Homo sapiens: one gene and its partners. The protein of the gene in region 2 purifies or fractionates together with the protein of the main gene of each other region. This does not show direct contact. Each region holds a gene or a part of one and is shown on either strand. Other genes may lie near its edges. The genes, in order: SGPL1, VSIG4, XPR1, SH3BP4, TNFAIP2, AP3S1 and ATP2B2.

What was found.
Region 1: the proteins of VSIG4 (region 2) and SGPL1 purify together in Homo sapiens (affinity purification with mass spectrometry; 3 studies listed by BioGRID and IntAct, with this or other methods). This does not show direct contact.
Region 3: the proteins of VSIG4 (region 2) and XPR1 purify together in Homo sapiens (affinity purification with mass spectrometry; 3 studies listed by BioGRID and IntAct, with this or other methods). This does not show direct contact.
Region 4: the proteins of VSIG4 (region 2) and SH3BP4 purify together in Homo sapiens (affinity purification with mass spectrometry; 3 studies listed by BioGRID and IntAct, with this or other methods). This does not show direct contact.
Region 5: the proteins of VSIG4 (region 2) and TNFAIP2 purify together in Homo sapiens (co-immunoprecipitation; 2 studies listed by BioGRID and IntAct, with this or other methods). This does not show direct contact.
Region 6: the proteins of VSIG4 (region 2) and AP3S1 purify together in Homo sapiens (affinity purification with mass spectrometry; 3 studies listed by BioGRID and IntAct, with this or other methods). This does not show direct contact.
Region 7: the proteins of VSIG4 (region 2) and ATP2B2 purify together in Homo sapiens (affinity purification with mass spectrometry; 3 studies listed by BioGRID and IntAct, with this or other methods). This does not show direct contact.

What each region holds. Positions count from the first base shown.
Region 1 is NC_000010.11:70,853,948-70,857,447, reverse strand, and holds part of SGPL1 (sphingosine-1-phosphate lyase 1), read right to left. Parts: intron 2,741-3,500; coding exon 2,593-2,740; intron 1,661-2,592; coding exon of another isoform or gene 1,628-1,660; intron 1-1,627. UniProt on the Homo sapiens protein: Cleaves phosphorylated sphingoid bases (PSBs), such as sphingosine-1-phosphate, into fatty aldehydes and phosphoethanolamine. Elevates stress-induced ceramide production and apoptosis.
Region 2 is NC_000023.11:66,037,281-66,041,414, forward strand, and holds the start of VSIG4 (V-set and immunoglobulin domain-containing protein 4 isoform 1 precursor), read right to left. Parts: upstream 2,801-4,134; 5' UTR 2,719-2,800; coding exon 2,664-2,718; intron 1-2,663. UniProt on the Homo sapiens protein: Phagocytic receptor, strong negative regulator of T-cell proliferation and IL2 production. Potent inhibitor of the alternative complement pathway convertases.
Region 3 is NC_000001.11:180,806,522-180,810,021, reverse strand, and holds part of XPR1 (solute carrier family 53 member 1), read right to left. Parts: coding exon 3,465-3,500; intron 1-3,464. UniProt on the Homo sapiens protein: Inorganic ion transporter that mediates phosphate ion export across plasma membrane.
Region 4 is NC_000002.12:235,039,017-235,042,516, reverse strand, and holds part of SH3BP4 (SH3 domain-binding protein 4), read right to left. Parts: intron 1,630-3,500; coding exon 1-1,629. UniProt on the Homo sapiens protein: May function in transferrin receptor internalization at the plasma membrane through a cargo-specific control of clathrin-mediated endocytosis.
Region 5 is NC_000014.9:103,135,700-103,137,939, reverse strand, and holds the end of TNFAIP2 (tumor necrosis factor alpha-induced protein 2), read right to left. Parts: 3' UTR 2,132-2,240; coding exon of another isoform or gene 1,937-2,131; 3' UTR 501-1,936; downstream 1-500. UniProt on the Homo sapiens protein: May play a role as a mediator of inflammation and angiogenesis.
Region 6 is NC_000005.10:115,904,435-115,907,934, reverse strand, and holds part of AP3S1 (AP-3 complex subunit sigma-1), read right to left. Parts: intron 1,115-3,500; coding exon of another isoform or gene 1,079-1,114; exon of another isoform or gene 1,074-1,078; intron 1-1,073. UniProt on the Homo sapiens protein: Part of the AP-3 complex, an adaptor-related complex which is not clathrin-associated. The complex is associated with the Golgi region as well as more peripheral structures.
Region 7 is NC_000003.12:10,345,087-10,348,586, reverse strand, and holds part of ATP2B2 (plasma membrane calcium-transporting ATPase 2), read left to right. Parts: intron 1-2,449; coding exon 2,450-2,556; intron 2,557-3,011; coding exon 3,012-3,203; intron 3,204-3,500. UniProt on the Homo sapiens protein: ATP-driven Ca(2+) ion pump involved in the maintenance of basal intracellular Ca(2+) levels in specialized cells of cerebellar circuit and vestibular and cochlear systems.

The DNA of each region.
Region 1 (3,500 bases), on a different chromosome or scaffold from region 2:
TAGCACAATAAAATAAAGATGAAAAATCATTATTATCAGCAATGTGAAAAAGATATTAATAGCATTTAGCTACAATAAAGGCAATCTGATAATAATGTTGTCCTCATCCTCAACTGCCTTCTAACAGCAGGAACATTTGCCTTTGTCTATACTTATTTTTTGTTCTCTATATGGCTTTGGAGTGGCCTTTTTCTGCAATAGCTTCCTTCTTCTCTCCTTTCCTATCCAGTCCTAGGAATTTTGAGAACTATTATGAGCAGAGTTGGCAGAAGAAAGCAAAATGAAAAGTGTGAAATTTCAGCACACTATCATCAGAGATGAAACCAGCAAACAAACCACAATGAGGTATAAACCATGAGCACCCCGGTCTCAGACGCCGGCTCCCTTAAGCCAAGCCTGGAAACCCACATAAAACTAGTTACCTGCTTCCAGCAGCACACGCTGTAGCATATTCAAGATCAGGAACACAGTCAACATTGGGATAAACCTCCTTTATCCCAGTGTGGAAAGAAAAGTAAAGTTCCTGAGTAGAATATAAGATCTGACTTTCCACTTTCCTCTCTCCCCGAGACATTCTTCATTTTACCCACAAATTTGTTGATATGGGTGTCTCAGGTCCTTGTGCTACAATGCAGCTGTGCCCTATTGAAAGTGGGTAGTGAGAAAGCTATTACGGAAACACACCAACTAAAAACTGCATGGAGCCAAGGGCTCTCCAAAGCAAAGATCTTCAGCTCTTGAGAACAGAAAACTAAGTGGTAAATATACAGACAAACTCATTCTTACAGCAATCTGCCAAGCTCTGGCTTGCTGCCCGTTTGACTTTCACTCTTTCCTTAGAGGACACTGCTCTGTACTATACACAGCTTCAGACCAGTGGTCACCAGCCTTTCAAAAATAAGATAACTGGTTTCATTTCCTGTTCTTTTACTGATGCTAGAGAATACAGCAATGGACAGTGACTTAAACATTAAAGAGAAGGCAATATGATGGCGGCAACCAGGTCTCATAATCATGGAAATCTTTAACACCAGGTTTTAGAGTGCTAACCACTGCTTTATTCATCTACATCCTAGACTATATCAAATTTTGTACTATTCAATGTCAAGACCTCAACACATGTCACTTAGAAATTGTAAGGGTATTTGTCAAGGCCGAGCACAGTGGCTCACACCTGTAATCCTAGCACTTTGGGAGGCCAAGGTGGGCAGATCACCTGAGTTCAGGAGTTCGAGACCAACCTGGGCAACATGGTGAAATCTTATCTCTACTAAAAACACAAAAAATTAGCTGGGTATGGTGCCGCACGCCTGTAATCTCAGCTACTTGGGAGGCTGAGGCACGAGAATTGCTTAAGCCTGGAAGGTGGAAGTTGCAGTGAGCTGAGATCACACCACTGCATTCCAGCCTGGGCAACACAGTGAGACTCTGTCTCAAAAAATAAAAAATAAGGGTATTTGTCAAAATGCAACATGGCTCCTGGTTGGCTCCTAGAATAGAAAAAAGAACATTAGTTTAAAACAAAACATAGCAAAACAAAAAAAAACCCTGATGAACTAGAAATAGAATTTGTAGTGTAGTTAATAGCACTGTACCAATGTTAATTTTTTAGTTTTGATAAACGTACCATGGTTATAGAGGATGTTAACATCAGGAGAAGCTGGGTATAGGGAAATCTCTATCATCTTTGCTACTTTTCTGTAAATATATCAAACTAAAAAGCTTCTTTTTAAAAAGTACTTGTAATATGATCTTAATCAGTAACAAACATAAATCTGTTTGAGTTAATAATAGCAATAATGTTTAACATTTACTGAATCCTTACTATATGCCAGGCACTATAAAACATTTATACATGTATGATCTCATTTAATCCCCATAATCATCTTTTCAGGTAAGTACTGTACTACTATTACTATCCCCATTGTAGAGATACAGGAACTGTGACATACAGAAGTAACTCGCCAAAGGCATACTTTAAGTGGCAAACCAAGGTATGAATCCAGGCTGGTTCCAGGGTTACGCTCTTAAGCACCAAGCTATTTGGTCTATTTATCCATCCCATATGTGCTCATGCATACATGTGTATACACACAGACAAACACTATTAGCATTCTCAGAAACAGACAGATATACATATATAGATAGATGTAAACTATATAGACAGCTCTACCTATAGCTACATGCATAAAGATAGACACCATCTGTTTATCTTTGATAGTGGAATTATAGTGACTTATTTTCTTTTGTGCCTTTATGCAGATTTCACATTTTTACATGGATCTGTATTTCATTTGTATTACATATCTTATATTCTCTCTTCTTAAACACAAATATATTTGTTTTATTCATGCTTACAAAAGGAAATAAAAGCCAAGTTCCACTGTCTCTGAGATTTGCTTGCTTTATGGATGAAGGATGAATCTAAACATAATTTTAAAAATAGGAAATTCAACCTGTGAAACAGAGAGTAGGCCCTCCTAAACATGTATTAACCAATGATGAGTTATTCTTAACCTATGTGAACATTAAACAATGACAAAACCTGTCTCTTTAAGGAAGTAGAGAGCATGTATATGCCAAGCATCATACCCATAGAGCTGTACTCCTTAAGTTTCTCCAAAACAGCAGATGAGCTCAGACCCTGGGAGGGTAAAGCTTTCACATACTCTTTGTCCACTTTCAGGAATGACATGTTCTTGCTAATATCATCCTTGGTCTTGTTCAACTTGTCTTGAATCTCCAAAGGTAAGAAAGACAAAGTTATCCAGATGCAAGAGTACAGTAGAGACAGCAGAATTATTATGACAGTCAAGCAACTGCTCAATGCTAGGCACCGCACAAGTAACTAAACTAACATTTTTCCTAAAGATATATGGTGATATTCTGACTGATCAGCTACTTTCTGGCATGTACAATAGCCTCTTAAAAATTTGAAAAGCGAAGCTTCTCTCTAAAGGTCAAGATGCACTCAGCCGGTCGCGGTGGCTTACACCTATTATCACAGCTCTTCAGGAAGCCGAGGTGGGCAGATCATTACAGGTCAGGAGTTCGAGACCAGCCTGGCCAACATGGTGAAACCCCATCTCTACTAAAAATACAAAAATTAGCCAGGCATGGTAGCAGGCATTTGTAATCCCAGCTACTTGGGAGGCTGAGGCATGAGAATCACTTGAACCCAGGAGGTGGAGGTTGCAGTGAGCCAAGATCACACCACTGTACTCCATTCAGCCTGGGCAACAGAGCAAGACTCTGTCTCAAAAAAAAAAAAAAAAAAGTTGCACCCAATTTCCCCATAACCCTTTTCTCTGCCACATTGACATCACTGCTGCTTCACTTGGTTGGCATTGCTAAAGTCAGCACATCCTTGAGGGCAGTATTTGGACTTTGATCCTGCCTTGGCAGCAGCTACAGTGTGTGTGTAAAAGAATCAAAGGTATAACTAGGAACAGTGGCCAGAAAACTGGCCATGCTGCAGTAAAAGTGATTCTGGTCCTTGT
Region 2 (4,134 bases):
ATATATAATATATATTATATAATAATATAATATATAATATATATTATATAATAATATAATATAATATATAATATATATTATATAATAATATAATATAATATATAATATATATTATGTAATAATATTAATATATAATATATATCATATAATAATATAATATATAATATAATTATATAATAATATAATATATATAATAATTATATAATACAATATATAATATATATTATATAATAATAATATAATATAATATATTCATAATATATTATATTATATTATATATTTATATACTTATTATATTATATTACTTCCTTTATTATTACTTCCACTTTACTGATAATTACTTATATATAATATATAATAATTATATAATTATTACTGATAATTACTTATATATAATATATAACATTATATTATATTATACTTATTACTGATAAGTATATATACTTATTACTAAGTATATAAACTTATTACTGATACGTATATATACTTATTGCTGATAAGTATATATACTTATTGCTGATAAGTATATATACAGTATTGAGCTTAATGTGGTCCTGAGACCCAGCCTTATAAAAGCAAATGTCTGATGCCTGTGTAATGGCACTGAAGAAAAGAAAGGTTGAATTTACTAGGTGTGTGCTCCTTTATAAGACCCATTCTAGGTCTCTTTCTGAATCCCCTTCCTCCCATCATCACAAAGAGGTTGACATTTTCCATATCTCTATCCCATTCCCCCACATGACTGGCTTCTCTCCCTTTCCTGGAATGCCTCCTGGATGGAGGATTAACTTATATAATAGATGTTTATAAAATGTTTCTGAAATGTTTAAAATGTATATAAAATGTGAATATTAGAAATTTTTTAAATTTTGATTATCTTGACATATCTCTTAGCCCCACAGGAAGAGGCTAGCAGCTTACTCTGGCCGCTACAGGGTTTTTAGCAGTGAAGCTGCAGTCCCACAGAGTTGTCCAGCTGAGAAACCCCTTTAAGACCAGTCAAGTCAACCTCCTCACTGTACAGATGGGCTAGGAACAATGAGGTCCAGGGAGAGGGAAGGTATTATTTGCAGCTCAGCATAACCTGAGCCTGAGGTCTATAGTATAAGATCCTGTGTACAAATGGAAGGCCTGCTTCCAGGTCTGGAAAAGCTCATAGGCTGGGGAAGGAACAAGACACATGAGTGCTCTCTCTCTCTCTCACACACACACACACACACACACACATGAATGCACACACACATACACACACACAAACAAAGGATTTAAATTTAACATTTCTAAAATGCTCCCTCAAGCCCCAGGCTTAAGCCCTAGCTCAAACCAACAGACTTGGAGAAGGTAGAGAGATACATTATAAAACCTGCTAGAGAATGGAAATGTGGTAGTTATAGAAAGAAAAATGTTTTTTCAGGAGCATTAACTCTGCCACTAATGCTCTTTGGCTTGGGGGCAAATTATTTTTTCTCTTGGTTGACTTAATTCAGAGTCTTTTCTAACTCTGAGGTTCCAGAGTGTGATGGGTCACAGAGCCCCAGGATAGGGTAACCTAATCAGAGTCAGCTACGGAAAGCTGGATTCTTTCTGACCTAACAAGTGACACCAAGCTAACACCTATCCAGCCTTTTTCTCTAGGGATGATAGGGAAGCAGCAAAATCCCCCTTTACCCTATATTGGATCTCACTTAGCTGTTACCCAGGTTGAGTTTCCTGAAAATCCATCTCACTTCTCAGGAGTGTAGATGAGGATAGAGCTTCCCAAGCTCCAAGGAAATAATGCCACTATGGAATAGTCCATCCTCCTTTGGGATTTGTATCCAGCCCATAAATAGCCCAGACAAATTGAGCCATGTCTATAGGGAAGTGAGTTATCCCAGGAATGGGTAAGAAACCAAGTCCTATGAAGACCAGTTGAAAAAGCTGGGGCTGTTCAGCTTGGAGGAGAGAAGAGTCAAGGAGACATAGTACTTGTCCTCAGGGCTTTGAAGGGCTATCACAGGGCAAGGAAGCATCTATGTTCTGTGTAGCCCCAAGAAGCAAAGCTGGGGTTTTTGGATGGAAGTCAGAGGGAACTGGATTTAGTTCAACACAAATAAGAACTTTCTAACAGTTGGAGCTGCTCCTGGATGGACTAGATGGTCTGGGGAGGTAGTGAACAGTGAAATCTCAATCACTACTGGATGTTTCTGAGCACTTATTCATGACAATGAAGGGTGGTATAGGTTACTTCTATAGTCCTATCCAACTCTTAGAAAACACTCCTTCTTCGGGGGCTGTATATTTTAACAGAGACCAAAGCTTGGAAGCAGAGTGGTTAAGTCCAATTGTAGAATTTTAGATGAGAGACAGCAGATGGAGGAAAGATTCGGATGTCATTGGGAACCTTCTTGATGCCCCTGAGATACAAGCCCTAGAAAATAATGCAGATGTTTTCCAAGAGAAAAATCCTTTTTCAATTTCTGCCCAAACTTGCCTTCTGGCTTCTTCAGCAGCCTTCAACTACATCCATCCGTTTTGCTCAAGGCTGAGAGAGCCTGCAGAGTTTGGCTGAGAAGACTCACCTGCCCAGTAGGAATAGGCTTTCCATAGTAGACATTAAACACCAACCCTCTAGCCTTTTGCCTAAGCCAGCAATGGCAGCCAGGCCCCCCTTTCTGCCTTACCATAAGTGTCCACTGTTAGGTGCCCCAGGAGTAGCAGGCCCAGTAAGATCCCCATCACAGCCAGAGCTACTTCTGTCCTTTCTTCCAGCCTCCTGCTACCAAAGAGGCTCAAACTTCTGGTGGCCGCCAGCGTCTGTGACTGCTTACTTCCCTTCCTTCCCTATATCTCTCACTCAAACTCCTAGTCCCATCACACATTCCCCTTCCTTCCCTATTTCAGTACAGGTCATGTGGGGTGCCCCCCTTCCCCCACCTCCTTGGGGTTGGAGGTTCCAGGATGAGTGAAGCAATTCTTCCCCCTGCTAGGGTATTGACTTGACTTTCCTTGGAGCCAATGGGGCTTTCTGGTCTTTGATCTCCTAGGCTGTATTTATTTTGAGTCTCCTCCACAAGATTCAGAGGTTGTGGGGGCGACCTTTGGGATGAGTCTTCCCACTCCAGTATGGCGGTGTTTTCCTTTGTGGTGAGCCCAGGGAGAAGAGATCAACTTTGCTGACCTACCCAATTTTCATTAGTTGTACTGTTAACCCTTGCCTGTGCAGCCTATGCAACTGGACAGGGTGTTGGGCCCGGGGTGCTTTTGGGCTTAAGAGTACAAGAGTTTAGTGTATTAAAGGGCTTTCTACACATCAAAGCTTGAATAATTGACAAGCCAATGGATAAGGCTGTTATGGGTGAATATGCCTCATATCTCATATTGGGGAAGCTCTTTGAATCACTTTCTACAATGGCTCCACCTCTCTGATGGTAAGGGAGAATTCATTTTCATTAATGTTCTCCATGCTTTTTCATAAGGAATTTATTTTTTACTTCTTTTAAGGGAAATTTAAGCCTAGCCTCCAGTGCAGCAGCCCATTAGTGGTATGCTGTATTAGGTTGAATTTTTCATTGACTTCCAATTGGTACAGGCCCTTGACCTACAAGAGAGTAATATTATGCCTCCTAGCAAAGCTCAACTGCTCCAGAAATTGCTCCTCTTCACAGGCCCCAGAGTGACTGTAATTTCATCAGCAGTCTAACTAGGTTTGGCACTGCGCTTTGTCTACTAAGCTTTGAAACAATAAGCACTTTCAAAAGCACAAATACATCCCAAAAATTCATACTGCACTGTAAGTAACAGCTAAGCTTAGTTTACTCTTTGATTGGAGGGATAGGAAAGGACTTGGTCAGGGGAGGGAGGAGTTTGTGCAGAGATGGGGAGTGGGAATATAAAGAAACATACTTGCCAAGGGGTGGCTGCATGCAGATGATTTGGAGCTGTGCACGGGCTAAGGAGACATTCCAGCATTTCAGGACACATTATTACATGGAATTCTATCAATCACCTCTGCCTCTAGGGCCCAATCCCCCTTGGCTGGTTGTTCCTTGTTTTTTGAGTACTGCACTCATTCCATCTCACTGGAAATTTCAGCCATTTTTTCCCACCGGGTCCTCACTCAGGAAACCCTGAACTTCACAGAACCCTCCTTTG
Region 3 (3,500 bases), on a different chromosome or scaffold from region 2:
TAGTACATTTCAGGTATTTTGTTTTCTAAAAACCTTCAAAAACAAAGCATTGAGACTCCCCTCTGTCTTATTATTACTTAATAGAGTAACAGATTCTAACTGTATTGTTAGTTTCTGACTGAAAGCATCCAAAAGATGGTCATTTGTCTTTTCCAAAGATAAAAAGTTACCTTTAGTTTCAAAAATTGTTTAATTTATCATATATACAAAAGAATGCATATAATTTATTTGGACTGTTAGAAATGAATAATAAAGTGAATCTATAACTACTATCCATATTTAGAAGCTGAACATTTCCATTAACTTTGAATTCCCTATTCCTCCCTGATCCCAAAACCTTCCCTCCGCACCAGAGATAACCACTTCCACATTTTCTTTAGCTTTACCATCTCTACAGGCATTCTTAAACACCCTAATTTTTTGAAACTAATTTTAAAATGTTTATTCAAAAACAACTGACATAAAAAAATTGCACATACTTAAAGTATAGAATTTGTGTCTTTTCTCTCTGGATGCTTTTAAGATTCTTCTCTTTATTTCCAAGCAGTTTGACAATAATATGCTTAGGATTTTTAAAAACTGCTTTACTGACTAAGTTGATATACAATAAACTGTATATATTTAAGGTGTACGATTTGATAAGTTTTGAAACTGCATAAACGTCTACAAAACCATCAGCATAATCAAGACAAAGAACATATCCACGACTCCCAAGAATTTCCCATGTGTCTTTGTAATCCTTTCCTCCCAGCCTACCCTACCCCACTCTATTCACAAGCAACCACTGATCTCCTTTCTGTCACTATTTATTAGTTTGCATTTTTTCTGGAGTCTTAGGTTAATGATATCATATAGTAGGTACCTTTTTTTTCTGCTTTCTCTCCACATAATTAATTTGAGGTTTATCCACATTGTTACATTTATCAATCAGTTATTCCTTTTTATTGCTAAGTAGTGTTTCATTGTATGGATATACCACAAATTGTTTATCCATTCACCTACTGATAGACATTTGGGTTGTTTAGATGCTATGAACATTTGTGTAGAAATCTTTATATGAACATATATTTGCACTTGTCTTGGGTAAATACCTAGGAGTGTAATAGCTAGACCATATGGCAGGTGTACACTTTTAAGAAACTTCCAAACTGTTTTCAAATGTGCTTATTCATTATACATTTTATATTCCACCAAAGCATATTAGAAAAGAGAGTTCCTACTCCTCCATCATTAGTATGATTAGTCTTTTTTAATCATTCTAACAGACAATGTATTATCTTACCGTGGTTTTAATTGGCATTTCCATAATGCCTAATGATATTGAGCATTTTATCACATGCTAATTTGCCACCTGTACATCTGTGAAGAACTGTTCAGGTCTTTTGCCCATTTTTAAAAGTTGGGTTGATTGTTTTCCTTCTATTGAGTATTGGAGTTCTTTATATATTCTAAATATAAGACCTTTAACAGATATGTTTTATAAATATTTTCTGCTAGTCTCTTGCTTTTCTTTTCATTCTCTTAATATGTCTTTTGAAGAGCATACGTTTTTTAATTTTGATGAGGTGCTTTTGGTGTCATTTCTAAGAAATCTTTGCATAACCCAAAGTCATTAGGACTTTCTTCTATATTTTCTTCTAGAAATTTGTAGTTTCCAGTTTTCATTTAGATCTATGGTACATTTAGAACTGTATGTTGTGAAGTATGGATGAAAGCTCATTTTTTTTTTTTTTTGGTATATGGAATTCAACTGTTTCAGCATCCTTAGTTGAAAATGCTACCCTTCTCCACTAATCTGCTTTATATCTTTATCAAATATCTGTTGTTCGTAATATGTTAGTCTATTTTTGGACACTCTATTCTGGTCCATTGATCATTTGCCTACCATGACACTATTACCACACTCTCTTGATTACTGCAGCTTTAATAAGCTTTCATAAGGTAATGTTAATCCTTCAATTTATGTTCCAAAGTTGCTTTGGCTATTCTAGGTCCTCTGCCTTTCCATATACTTTTCTTTTTTTGGAGACAGAGTCTTGCTCTGTCACTCAGTGCAGTGGCGCGATCTCGGCTCACTGCAACCTCCACCTCCTGGGTTCAAGTGATTCTTGTGCTTCAGCCTCTCAAGTAGCTGGGATTACAGGCATGTGCCACGAAGCCCAGCTAATTTTTGTATTTTAGTCGAGATGGGGTTTCATCATGTTGGCCAGGCTGGTCTTGAACTCCTGGCCTCAAGTGATCCACCTGCCTCAGCCTCCCAAATTTCTGGGATTACAGGCATGAGCCATCGTGCCTGGCCTCCATATAAATTTTTAAATCTGCTTATCAATTTTACAAAGAAGTCTTCTGAGATTTCTGAGCTGGAACGTATTATATCTATAAATCACCTCAGGAAGAAACAACGTATCTTTAAAATACTGGGTGTGTGCAATATACCCATGAACATAGCATCTCTCTCATCCAAGTCTTTAATTTTGCTCAGCAGTGTTTTGTAGTTTTCAATGTAAAGGCCTTACACATCTTTTGTCAGAATTATTACTAAGCATTGTATATTTTGATGATATTATAAACAGCATTGCTTTAACATTTTTTGATTTCCAATTGTTCTTGCAAGTATCTAGACAAATGATTTTACATATTGGTCTTGTATTTGGCAACCTTGCTAAACTCATTTGTTAGTTATAGTAGCTATTCTATAGATTCACTAGATTTTCTACATAGATCATCAAGTCACTGGCAAAACCCCACTGGTTTTACTTCTTCGTTTCTACCCTGAATGTCTTTTATTTCTTTTTCTTCCCTTACCGCACTGGCTATAATCTCCAGCACAATGTTGAATACAGGTGTTAAAAGTGAATACCCTTTTTTGGGCCAAGTCTTAGGGAGAAAGCATGCAGTGTTTACCATTGAGTATGATAATAATTGTAGAGGTTTTATTTTTTTTTTAATAGATGCCTTTCATTAGGCTATGGAAGCTCTGTTATTGATTTCTATTCCACTGTTGTCTGAAAATATACTTTGCATGACTTAAATCCTTCTATATTTATTGAGACTTGTTTTATGACACAGAAGATATCACTTAATAAATTTTCTTTTTTTATAACTACTGTGTAGATATCATTTAATAAATGCTTTTTTGGAGTAAGCTATATAGCAATCCAGTATATCTGAACCCACCAGATCATTTTTTTTAAATCACATCTTAATCATTTGATGATACCAGTAAGTTAACATGTCAGTAAGAATAAACAAGAAAGTACAGTATGAGAAGAGAAAGGTGGAAGACATTATAATTCAGAATGAAGTAAAATATAGCATATAATGTTTAAAAAACTAAAATAAGAAAAATAGCAACTACTTATAAACTTTGGCTGAAAATTTTTTTAAGATAATGGGGCCAGCTAAATACTGTGTTGATTATTAAATAGGTGAAACCAAACAAACTACTGGAACCAAATACTAACCTGAGCAGCTCCCAAAGGGGGGACACGTAAACGCTT
Region 4 (3,500 bases), on a different chromosome or scaffold from region 2:
CGTTGGGGTTCTGGGAGGTGATGGGGAAGATCAGGCGGCTCACCTTGCCCAGCTTCAGCTGGAATCCTCGCACCACTTTGGCCTGCTCGCTGGCTTTGACCTCGTAATTCGTCATATTGGAAAACATACAGACCTTGAGATCCTGGGGCCTGGACAAAACGAACTGGTGCTTCCCCCACAGCTGCAGGGCCACCGGGGCAGGGTTGGGTGCCTGGCGTGTGACCTCGCTGACCAGGAGCGTCTTTGGGGCACAGTCATGCCCAAAAATGGTCACTACCGTCTTGAAGGATGGGTGGATGTGTTTAGGGCCGTAGAGACCCACTGTGACTTTTTTATTGATGAAGTCCCACACGGTGGAAGGGTAGAGGATGCTTGGGCCATGGGCCACGACAGCCACGTACATACAGGGCTCCAGGTTGTGCAGCTGTGCCTGGACCGTGTCCCCACAGCTGCAGTTGAGCGGGACGGAGACATATGGCCCTTCCTTCGAGTCGCTCCTCAGGCACTGGAGGCCCACTGTGCTTTTGCTAAAAAGGTCATTTTTTATCTCGGCTGACACTTTCATCTCCAAGATGATAGAGGTTTTCACCTCCAGGTTGCTCAGCTTGACCTCCAGCACAGGGCTGATGCTGCAGGACCTGTCACTGTTGAGCTCCAGCGGGGGGTCCAGCAGGGCTTTCATGGAGATCTGCTGGGTCTCCCCAGGGGCGACGTGGCCCTCGGGCACGTGGATGCTGATGCTGGTGTCAGGAAGCTGGACAGCACCCCCGGAGCTATCCAGCTTGCACACGATGTTTGTCTCCACGGCTTGGGTCTGGCCCCAACCAGGGCTTTGGCCAAGCAAGTCCAGGTCGTGGCAAGACCGGGCCAGCTTCCTGTGGTTTAGCCAGGCAGTTCGAAAATCCTCCCGGCTCTGAAATTGCTCGGGGGCAGGTGATTTCAAGCCGGTGAAGAAACTCGACGATGTGGGAGCATCGGACTTGGCTTGGAGGACGGAGAGTTCCGAGAGACTGTAGGAGCGCTTGCTTCTGAAGAAGGGGTTGTCCCGCCTGACCGGCGGCTCTGCGTGGAGTCCGTTTGTGACTGGAAGCTCATCGAAGATGTTGCCAGTGCTATTCGTGGTGGCTGAGCTGGATTCGGTGAAGGAGGATGTACCTGCGTCAAAAAGGAGCAAATCCACAGTACTTTTGGGATTCAGCTCATCCAGGCTGGGCATGACGGGCACGTTCCCATTCAGAAATGGATTGGTCTGGACCCCATTCCAGAAAGGGTTATTACTGTACATTCTGCCTGGTACTTTTTTGTCATCTGTCCATCCCCCGAGCAGCTCCAGCTCCTTGGCTACCTCGTCTGGGCTGTCTGGAAGATTATCAATCATACCGCTGTCACTCAGTGTTGAGTTCCGGTAGTTCAAGGGCTGCACATAGGAGGAGGGGATGTAGCCCATTTCGGTGGTGTTGTGTGCGTACCACCACTCACCGCCAGATGTGTCCAAGACGTAGAGATGGTCGCCCTTGGAGAACTTCAGTGTGGTGAAGTTGGTGGGGCAATAGTCCTTGATCGCAATCACTTCCTTTGCATTTCCGAAAGGTGTGGGGTTGTCTACGAGCAAGGCACTGGGAGAAGGCACTGTGCAAAACACAAAGAAAACAGATGGTGAGGGCAAGGCCGGCGGGGTGTCCGGAGAGCTTCCCAAAGGAGAGAGGACGGTGGTAAACAGACAGGTGCACAATAACCCAGGCAAGTCACCAACAGAAACAAACCAAAGTGAAATTCAGTAGGTAATTTACCTGGCCAACGAACTGGTTCCTGCTACTTGGTCACCTTCAAAATCGACAGCCTATGTCCGGCAGAAAGACCACAGAGGAGCCTCTCCATCACTCACAGAAAGGCAAATCAGTGCAATGGAATATTTAACATGCCCTACGCCCTAAACATCTCATTTTGGGCAACGTTAAAATTCTTCTTAAAAGAACTGCTACTAGATACAAAGAGAAACTGAATGTGATTAACTTAGAAAACACGGTGACACGGTGAGTTAGGTGACCACTGCATGTGATCAGGGACTGGAAATGAACAGATTCCAAAAACTCCCGCAATGACATGTATGAGCTGATTCCAAGCTCTGCCTCTGGATGGAAAGCTTCCCTCAACCTGCTTCTTAAATTTCCAAACTCAACCTGTTCCTCACCAAACTGTTTCCTCAGATAAAGTAAGAATTCTGAAGTCAGTTCCTTCCAACCTCTTTTATTCTTATTTTACTTATTTATTTATTTATTTATGAGACAGTGTCTCACTCCGCCACCCAGGCTGGCATGTATTGACATGATCTCAGCTCACTGCAACCTCAGCCGCTCAGATTCAAGTGATTCTCCTGCCTCAGCCTCCAAAGTAGCTGAGATTACAGGTGTGTGCCACCATGCCTGGCTAATTTTTGTATTTTTAGTAGAAATGGGGTTTCATCATGTTGACCAGGCTGGTCTCAAACTCCTGACCTCAAGTGATCCTCCCGCCTCAGCCTCCCAAAATGATGGGATTACTGGTGTGAGCCACTGCGCCTGGCCCAACCTCTTTTAAATTATCATTCAAAATCACAACATGAAAACAGACTGTCTACATACCTTGAAAATGAGAGATTATGCCTAGTCATAGCTCATACTATCATTGAACAAGTGTTGAAGCAGTCTGAAAAATTCCAACCCTTCAAAAAGTGAATCAAGTTAATTCATGGCTCCTGCCATTGAACTCTGTATGTTACCAATGTAGACGGCAAATGAAACAGCAAAAATAAGTCAGCCAAACAAGTGGTGTGTTTTGAAAAATAATGGATATGATTAAATGAGAAGATATATTCAGAAGATGAAGAACACTCTTTCTGAAGAAAATAAGCACATATACTTCTCCCCAGGACTCCCCTCCCCCACCTCCCAAACTGCCTCACTTACGGAGTCTGCTGACATTCTGGCTTCCCGTAATAAACAATTGAAAGAAAGAAAGGAAACGTTTCTTTCTTTCTTTCTTTCTTTTTTTTTTTTAAGTTGCCAAAGCAAATGACCAAAGAAAGGAATCCGTTTTTAGTTAAACTAAACCTACATCTTTTCTAATGTGATGAAGTCCACAGTCATCGTATTCTATCAAATTGCCCCCCCGACCCCAGAAAATCACCTGCCAGTTTCCTTTTCCTTTGAAAGGAAATAATCACACTTCCTTGGGAAAGTGTTAGGAAATCAGGTAGACAGTTTCTATTCATTTACATTAACTGGGTTACAGAGATGCGCTTAGCTGGGAGCATCCCTGGGCCTTGAAGCCCCACCTACCTCCTCCTGTGAAATTACAGCAGGCCCGTCTATCTGGGTGTCTCAGAGAACCCGGCTCTGGGATCACTAAACCCAGACTCGAGTGGAGCCCTTAGAAACTGTGTGATCTCCAGAGCCTAAGACTCCACTCATGGTGGACAAAAAGTGTATTTCCTCAATGAGCTTTGGAGAGGACAAAATGCA
Region 5 (2,240 bases), on a different chromosome or scaffold from region 2:
CAGATTGGCTGCGGAGAGGCCCACCCTTCCGTGGCAGCTGAGCCCGTCTCTGAATACAAACCAGACCTCCTGTGTCCACAGCTGTAGCTTTCAGGTCAATGCCAGCATGGTAAGAGTCAGTTCCCACTCTGTGTCCCGTGCATGCGGTTGAAATGGCTGCCCCGTGTCCACCCCACCCTCTTCCTCAGTAAAGGACGGTGGAGGAAGCCCCAAAGGGTCACAGTCCCCTTTTTACAGATGAGGAAACTGAGGCACGGAAGGGTGAAGTGACTGTCCATGCCCTACAGGCAGACACTTCCAAAGCTCCTGCTCACAGTGAGGGGATGGTGGGCCATCTCCTGCCTGGACCACATGAGGTGCTCTGGGGGCTGGGACAGGCTGGGGATTGACACAGAACCTAGGTAGGTTTGCCCGGACCCCTAGAGGCTCAGAAAGCTGCTAAGGCTGCCTGGCTGGGCCCCCCATCATTGTGCAGCTCCCAAAATAAATCACTCCACAGCCACTTTTGAATTCTGTTTTATATCAAGCTATAAAAACCTGGATCCTGTTCAACATACATACAAAAGCAGTACTCTAAAAAATAATTATTATTATATTAACAATATCAAACACGCTAACTCCTACACACGTACAAAGACCTTGGGCATCCTTTATACCGGCCACTTCCTGGCCACAGCTTTGTAAGGCAGTACCTGGGAAAAGGGGACGGACCCAAGAGAGCCGGCCCCAAATCCTGACTCAGCACTGCAGAGGCATCAGCCGGGCTGAGTCATGCCTGAGTCCGAAGGGCCCCCTCTCAGGCTGAGAAGGAACTTTCAGGCCCAGGGAGGAGCAGAGCCTTAGGGGGAGCACATGCCGAGCAGGAAAACGAGCTCACATTTTCCTGGGGTAGAGCGAGGTGCCCGGCAGGGCAGGGGATGAACGGAGGGTGCGGTGGGCAGAATAACGGCCTCCCAAAGATGTCCACGTGACAGTCCCCAGAGCCTGTGACTATGTTAGGTTACACAGCCAGTGGGAACTAAAGTTGCAGATGGAACTAAGGTGGCTAATCAGCTGACCTGAAAATAGAAAGACGACCTGGGTTCTCTGGGTAGGCGCAATGTGATCATAAGCGTCCTTAAAAGCGGTAGAGCAGGCCGGGTACAGTGACTCATGCCTATAATCCCAGCACTTTAGGAGGCTAAGGCTACAAGATCCCTTGAGCCCAGGAGTTCCAGACAAGCCTAGGCAACAGAATGAGACCCTGTATCCACAAAAAATATGTAGCTGGGCGTGGGGGATTGTCTCAGGGGACTGAGACAAGAGGATCACTTGAACCAGGAGGTCCAGGCTGCAGTGAGCCTTGATGCCATGACCAGGCCACTGCACTCCAGCCTGGGCAACACAGCAAGACCCTGTCTCAAAAAAAAAAAAAAAAAAGTGGTGGAGGGAGGCAGGAGAGGGGAGGCCTCAATGAGGTGACGGGAAAAAGATTCAACTACCCACAGCTGGCTCTGAAGATGGAGGAGCCTGAAGTCAAGAATTACGGTCAGCCTCTAAAAATGAAAAGGCCAGAAATGAATTCTCCCCTAGAGCCTCCAGAAGGAGTGCAGGACTGCCGACACCCAGATTTGAGCCCCGGGTCAGCCTTCTGACCCGCAGAACTGGAAGACCTCGTTTTGATCCACGAAGTTTGTGGAAACCTGTCACGGCAATAGGAAACAAATACAGAGGCCAAAGGGTCAACAGTGAGAGGTCAAGCTTGCCCTGCCCCTGCCCAGACCTCAGCCAGACTTCTGGGTGGCAGGGCCCACGGTGGCACCCCCAGGGCCTGTCCCTGCCTTGGGGAAGGGGGAGCCTGAGAGGACCCAGGAGGTCTTGGGCCCTTCGGTAGTAGACACCAAGCCCTCGGGGGACCACCCTCTAGTTGAGGCCTTGGGGGATGAAGAGGGAGGGCTCAGGGCCCCATTGCAGGGCCAGCCTGTAGGGGCCGTGGGGCCACCTGGATGTGACGTCTAATGCTGGCGGTGCTCACAGCTCGCCACAGGACCCTAAAAGCCCCTGCCAGACGAGAGCTCATCTTTTCCTTCTTTCTCTTCCAGTTCTGTCTTCCATTCCACCATTGCTGAATCCCGCTCACGGCGGCCCTGGGCTGCAGAGGGCAGATGGGTGAGGCTCGGCCCCTGTCTCCAGAGAGCTGAAGAGGGCCCTCGGCCCCACCCACGAGGAGGACAGTCATGAGGCCGACTGTGGAGGGGCTC
Region 6 (3,500 bases), on a different chromosome or scaffold from region 2:
CTCAATAAATTACTTTTATTTTGAAATTTTCAATCAGAGACCTTATAAACATTTCTTTTGCTTACATGGTTTCACACAAAATAGTTGCTCATCACCACGTACATGGAACTTTTAAAAAAGTAATTCACACAGTTAATTTATGGTGTGAAAAAACGTACAGGAAATATCAGAAGAAAAATTAGTTTTGTAAAACTAGAGGTCTATTAAAAATATTTCCAATATTTGCCAATACGCTTTGCAAAAATATTCAGGGTTTTTAATTCAATACTAAAACATTAATATATTTTTATTGATTCTGATTATGACATGTTTGGATGTCAGAAGGTTTGCTACAATGAAAACCCATTGTATTTTGGTGATTTGGTAATTTGGTAATTCCATTTTTCGAGCATTCTAGTTTGAAATACAGTCAAGTTTTATAAGATTTCTGATCTTATTTTCTGTTGGCCACTGTTAATATGCACCTGCAGGTCAAAACTGTAAAAGCAATTCTGTTAAGACTTTGGAACTGAAAACCATTTGAGGGGAAAAAGTACTATTTAACAGTCACTATTCTAAGCCTTCACTGCTTCCCATTTTGTATGCAAAACTCTGAAGGTTCAGCTTTTGGTTTTTAAATTCACAGCTTCCAAAACCCAGCAGGCAATTTTATGTTAGAATCCTAATTTAGAGATGGAAAAAAAACAAATCTGTGAGAGTTAAATTAAGATTGGTTCTGCTATATGATGCTCAAAATAAATTTTACGTTTTTATATACAAAGTAAATTGTCACTTCTGCAAATGCAATTTGTCAGTTAGATGACAAGTGTTTAAAAAAAATTTAAACTTTCCTTTTACAATGCAGGCAGACAAAACAGAACAAACATGACATCAATGATATACTAGTAAAATACACTAAGTCCAATAAAAGATGAAGAAACTACAAGGAGAAACTAGAATGGAAAATAGGCTACAGGGACTATATGGGTTTATTAACACAAAGAATTTTTGAGTCTGGCCTAAATAATTAATTGCCTTTGACATCATTTTGCTTTCCCTTTGTTATAGTACATATTTCTCAAAGTCAGCAATACCTTGTCTACCTGTCCTGTCTGGGAGACTGAAAGATAAAGGTCTGTAAGAGAGAAGAATGGAAAGAGCTAGAAAGATCAGGATGTTCGGAAAAAAAAGAGGACTGACTTTCAAAAAGTAGTGACTAAATTCAGACCCATTTATCCATCTTAAGAATAACATGAAATACATAAAAGCTAACAGATCTCCCCAACCCCACCCCTCTACCTCCACCCCCAGGGAGTCCTTTTATTCTTAGGCAGGTTCCTGAGTGCCTCTTATACTTCCCCCGAATCCCATCAACCTCCCAGCTTAAACCCTCCTCTCCCAATATTCCAATGTTATAGTAAACCATTTTTCTATCAAAATAGAATAGATGGAAATACATTCAGAGTATATCTTTGCTTCTCTCTTTCAGGATCTGGCAGAGCTTTGCTTCCACCTGTCTAGGTATTGGGAATTAAACTGGTTCACTTTTTTCCATTACCAGAAATGTACTAACTTTAGACCAACATAATAAAAGCTCTGATTTCTGACAAAGGCCCCTAGATAAATGCATGTTATGTTTAAAAAGCTGTGTCTCAATTATACCCAGACTGATTTTTAAATATAAATGATGTTCCTAAGATATTACTTAAATAATTTTTAAAAATATTGATAACCAGTTCTTTTCATCAATCATGACATTCTCGATTTTAAACAAGTCTTTTTTTGTGTGTTTGTTTTTGAGACGGAGTCTTACTCTGTCACGCAGGCTGGAGTGCAGTGGTGCAATATCAGCTCACTGCAACCTCCGCCTCCCGGAATCGGGCGATTCTTGCGCGTCAGGCTCCAGAGCAACTAGGATTACAGGCAAGTGCCACCATGCCTGGATAATTTTTTTGTATTTTTAGTAGAGACGGGATTTCACCATATTTGCCAGGCTGGTCTCAAACTCCTGACCTCAGGTGAGCAGATCACCTGAGTGATCCCAAAGTGCTGGGATTACAGGCGTGAGCCACTGCGCCCAGCCAAACAAGTCATTAAGTTTGTCCTTATATAATACATTTTAACTGAAATTTAGTAAGAAGATTAGGAAAAGTTTATACTTTGTTTCAAGTAATTTTGGATTATTCTGCAGAGTAATATCTCTGGTAAATTTAACCAATTGAAGTAACATGGACATGAAACATATGAAAGCTTTTGACATTCTAGCTGGAATAAAGCTAGAAGCCTTTCAAACATACTTAAAATATACAAAAGCTACGAAAAATTAGTCATCATAATTTTCAGTGCTGTTTTAAAAAGATGATCAGGGCTAAATGGCCTCACTTTGACTTGAAATCCGATTTCATAACTAAAATATTAGCAGACGTTACATGTATAGAAAATATATAATTTTGTAGTTTATCCCCAATCAGACTTAAAACATACTTTCTTGTAAAAGACAAAAGAAGAGAAACTAATTTGGTACCAGATAACAATTATGTATGATGCGAGATGATCAGGGAATGAATAATAGAAGTAATCACCAGTATTCTAAACTATTTTAAATAGCATTATTTCTGTGAATAGATTTTAAGTTATAGTATTCTTATAACTATTTCCATTGAAATGTAAATTACGCATTTTACTGCTCTTTATAGATAAGAAAAATTGCCTCATTAACGAAGTTTTATTCAACAATCAAAAAGCAAATACCCATTATGCAATAATTATAGGTCCTTCATAACTTTTGTCAATATAGCACATTAACCCATTTATGCCGGAGGTTGCAAACTTTTTTTTGTGAAAAATCAGACCTTGGGGATGACCTTGAGCAGTAGGATATAAATAACTCCCACAAGCTTAGCATTCCAATAATGGAACACCAGGCATAAATGTCTTAAGTAGCAGAAGAAAAAGAAGGACCACCACCAATGAAAAGGAGTTAACTACCTAGAAAGGTGAAAATTCCAGACAACTGGTCAATATTTTTTACAGATGATTATGCAGAATTCACAAATTACTAGATACTCATTCATTTATACCAGTTATTAAAGGATTGCATCACTGTTTGTCCCTTGGCATTTAAAATCTATAACCATACAGTTTTGCAAAGCAATGTTTAACAAATGACACACATTTTAAGTTCTTTTAAGACTTTAAAAGCAATAGCTCAGGGTTTATAATAATCTTTTCTTTACTAAATAATATATTGCAAGTCAGTTATACTAAATTAAATTATGAGTCTTTTTCCTTGTCCTAAAACAAAATTTTCTCTATTAACCTAATTTATGTTTTCCACTTTCAAAAGCCAATATTTTAAAAATTGGCTATAGGACAAACAAAACATATAGTTAGTTAAGATAATCTTAGCTCTAAATCACCACTATAAACTTCTCCTTTGGGAAACCAACAGGAATGGGAAATTGAGATAAAGAAAAATGCAAGACTATTTTAAATTTAAAAGAGAACACTGGAAAATGTTT
Region 7 (3,500 bases), on a different chromosome or scaffold from region 2:
GATCCCCAGATGCCTTCAAGGATCTGGGCCAGGACCTCGGGGTGGGAGAGGGAAGCTACAGGAGACTGGAGCAGGTGGGAGGGCAGCAGATCCTGCAGGGCCGCCAATGCCCACCACGAGCACCCCGTCATGGCCTGCACCGTGTCACCAGGCACAGGAACATGGGAGGGTTTAGAGGGTAGAAGCATCATTTTAGAAAACTTACCCTGCAGTGCAGAGCACGGCCTGGCAGTGGAGGGACCTGTAGGATTGTCCTGCTTAAGAGTTGTCACCTGCCCACAGTGGTGACACCTCAAGTGGAGCTGCCAGGTGCGGGTCTGAGAAAGTTTGGGTAGTGGAGGGGTCTGGGCTGGGTGGTGGTTTGCATGTCATGGAGGGATGAGGAGCAGGAGGGTCTGGGATCCCATCAGTCTATACCTGTTGGAGAAGAGCATTGGACATCGAGCGAGGAGGGAGAGCAGGCCTGAGACAGAGTCCTGGGTGGCACATGTGGGTGGGGAGAGAGGAGCTGCAGAAGCCAAGAGCTGCCCGAGTGATGGTGCAGGCTGAGAACCTACAGAGGAGGCCAAGGGGAGGAGGCTAGAGGGGCAGGAGGATGGTCAGTGGGGAGTGGTGCCGGGAAGACAAGGAAGGAGGCCTGTGGAGGAGGAAGGTGTGGTCCATGGTGGAAATAGTTGCTGAGAGGTCTGCGGGGACAGAACAGAAATGTGACCATAGGAAGCAGCCACAGGGAGGCCCCTGGTGACTGCACACAGTCAGGCCACCCCAGGACTGGAGGCAGGGAGGCGTCTAGGGAGAGGTTTCCTCCCAGCTTTCCGCACAGCTTGAGCTACGCAACGGTCCGCACCACCTGGGAGCCACAGGGCAGAAATTTGACCCGTCCCTGCCTTGGAGGAGCCCCCAGGCTGACTGAGGGAACTATGGAAACTCAGGCCTAATGTCCCAAGGGGACAAGCTTGGGGAGGCTGAGTCCAGGACGGTGGAACTGAGGGGTCACCGACAGCTGGGTGGGAGCAGCCCAGAACGATTCCCAGAACACACGGCACTGCAGCTGGGCCTGAAAGAGGGTAGAGCTGCAAGGGAGCAGGTTGGGGGCACAGTGCCCCAGGTTATGGAACTCAGCGCCTCATTCCACAGGCTGCTGCCGTCTGCTAGGCACAGAGCAGAGAGATGCGCAAGGATGGAGCAGCACATAGAGTTACATGGATCTGATTAAGGGCAGGCAGGGATCCTCAGAGGGTCAGAAAGGCTTCCTGGGAAAAGCAGCCTCTGAGCCAAAAATACAGTACAGGTGGGTGACAGGAGTACCTCCAGCCAAGGGAACAGCCTGCCCAGACACAGGGCCAGTGAGAGCTAGCTCTGTGGGACCGTAAGCACAGATTGGGGGTGGCCAGGGGATGAGAGAAGAGAAGAGGTCAGGATGTGAGTGAGGCCTGGTCACAGAGGACTTCATAAGTGGAGCTAAGAACATGGATGTTATCCTGAGACCAAGGGGGGAAGCAGGAAAACGACATTCCGGGGATGGCTGGGGGACGGAACTGGTTCAGACATGGGTGTTAGAGAGATCCTGAGGTTGCTGTGGGGAAGCAAGTTGGAGGGGGAGTCCAGAGTCAGTGAGAGGAAACAAAGTGATGCTGGTGGCAGAGGGTGGAGACAGAGAAAAGGAAGGGTTTCAGTGGGATTTTGGAGCCAGAATTGGCAGGCCTTGGTGATACATTCAATGTGCAGAATGAGAGACCCATGGATGCTGATACCCAAATTCCTGTCGTGCCCATGGACATCCCTGCTCGCAAGCCCCATGAATGAGGAGTCCCACAAACTCCACAGGTCCCCACCGATGACATCCTTCACCCACCCTTTTCCACTGGCCCCAGCTCAGTGACTGGGGCCACATGTCATTTGTTCATTCTGTTATTCGTTGAATGTTTTATTGAAGATGAATGTCTGGAGGGAGGTCAGGGCCAGAATGGTGGGGCAGAGGTCACTGGCAAATGACAAAGCCAAGGCCTCCTCAGCAAGCCTGGACTCCCCAGGGAGAAAGTGCTGGCTAGTGGTGTCGGGAGGAACAGATGGTGAGGTCCTGCTGAAACCCTGGGAGCCCTGCTGAGGCAGAGGGGGCCCTGAGCACAGTTAGAGGATACAGTGTTTCTGGTTAGGATGGATGCCAATGTGGCCACAGGTTGCAGACAGCAAAGAGGGGGCTGGAGAGGTGAGCAGGGCCCGGGCCACAGGGGGCCCCAAGTCGGCACCAGCCCAGTAAGGAGCCCACTGTAACCTGCTGGCAGCTATAGGCCAGCCTGGAGCTGGGAAGAGCCTGGATGGAGGGGGCGGCTGGACAGGGACCAGAGAGGAAGCCATGCCCAGCCAGGCCCCTCCCGAGGACCAGGGCTGGCCCAGGCTGCCTCCCACCTGAGTGGCCCAGGGCCTGAGCACACTCCTGCCCCAACAGGCATCATCGACAGCACACACACTGAGCAGCGGCAGGTGGTGGCCGTGACGGGGGACGGGACCAACGACGGGCCTGCACTCAAGAAGGCCGACGTGGGCTTCGCCATGGTAGGAACGGCCCACAGAGGGCCTGGGGTGGTGGGGGCTGGGGAGATTGGACTACACAACCTTGGGCTGGCTACTCAGGAGCCCCAGTTCACACTTGGCCCACCCGCCATCTGCCGTGGGTGCCCACCCTTCTCGAGACTCAGCCTGACCCCGAGGTCTTCCTGGAAAGGCATAGGATGCTTCTTGCTCTGGGGGAGCTGTGTGAAGGGGGGCACTTGCAGGCTGAGGAGGAAGATAACAGAGGGGGAGAGGGGGCCAGGGTGAGGCTTCCTGAGGGTGAAGGGAGCTGGGTCTGTGAGGAGCGTGAAGAGTGGGGTGTCCCTGTGTGGTCTGGCTGTGCTGGGCCCACTGGGAGTTGTGTAGGACTGAGGAAGTGGAGGGAGTGAGGATGGTGATGCTAGAAGTGGTCACCTCCCCCGGCCACCCCACCCAGCCTCCTGTCCCTGTCCCCACAGGGCATCGCAGGCACTGACGTGGCCAAGGAGGCCTCAGACATCATCCTGACAGACGACAATTTCAGCAGCATCGTCAAGGCAGTGATGTGGGGCCGCAACGTCTATGACAGCATCTCCAAATTCTTGCAGTTCCAGCTCACCGTCAACGTGGTGGCCGTGATTGTGGCCTTCACAGGCGCCTGCATCACGCAGGTGGGTCCGCAGGAGACCACACCAAAGCCTGGGGGAGGGCGGAGACCCCCCACAGAGGCTCGGGGGCCTTAGGGTACTCCAGGTTGTCCCTGTCAGAACAGCCGGGGATGAGGCACCCATCGATGGAGCACCTGCTGGGGGCCAGGAACTGCATCACAGAGCTCAGGTGCAGGCACTGGCCCCAGGGGAGTCGAGGACATGAGGCTCAGAGAGGTGGCGTGACTTGTTCAAGGTCACCCAGCAAATGGGAGCTGTCAGGCTCACAGCCTGGCCCTCACTGCAGGAGGCAGGAGAGGG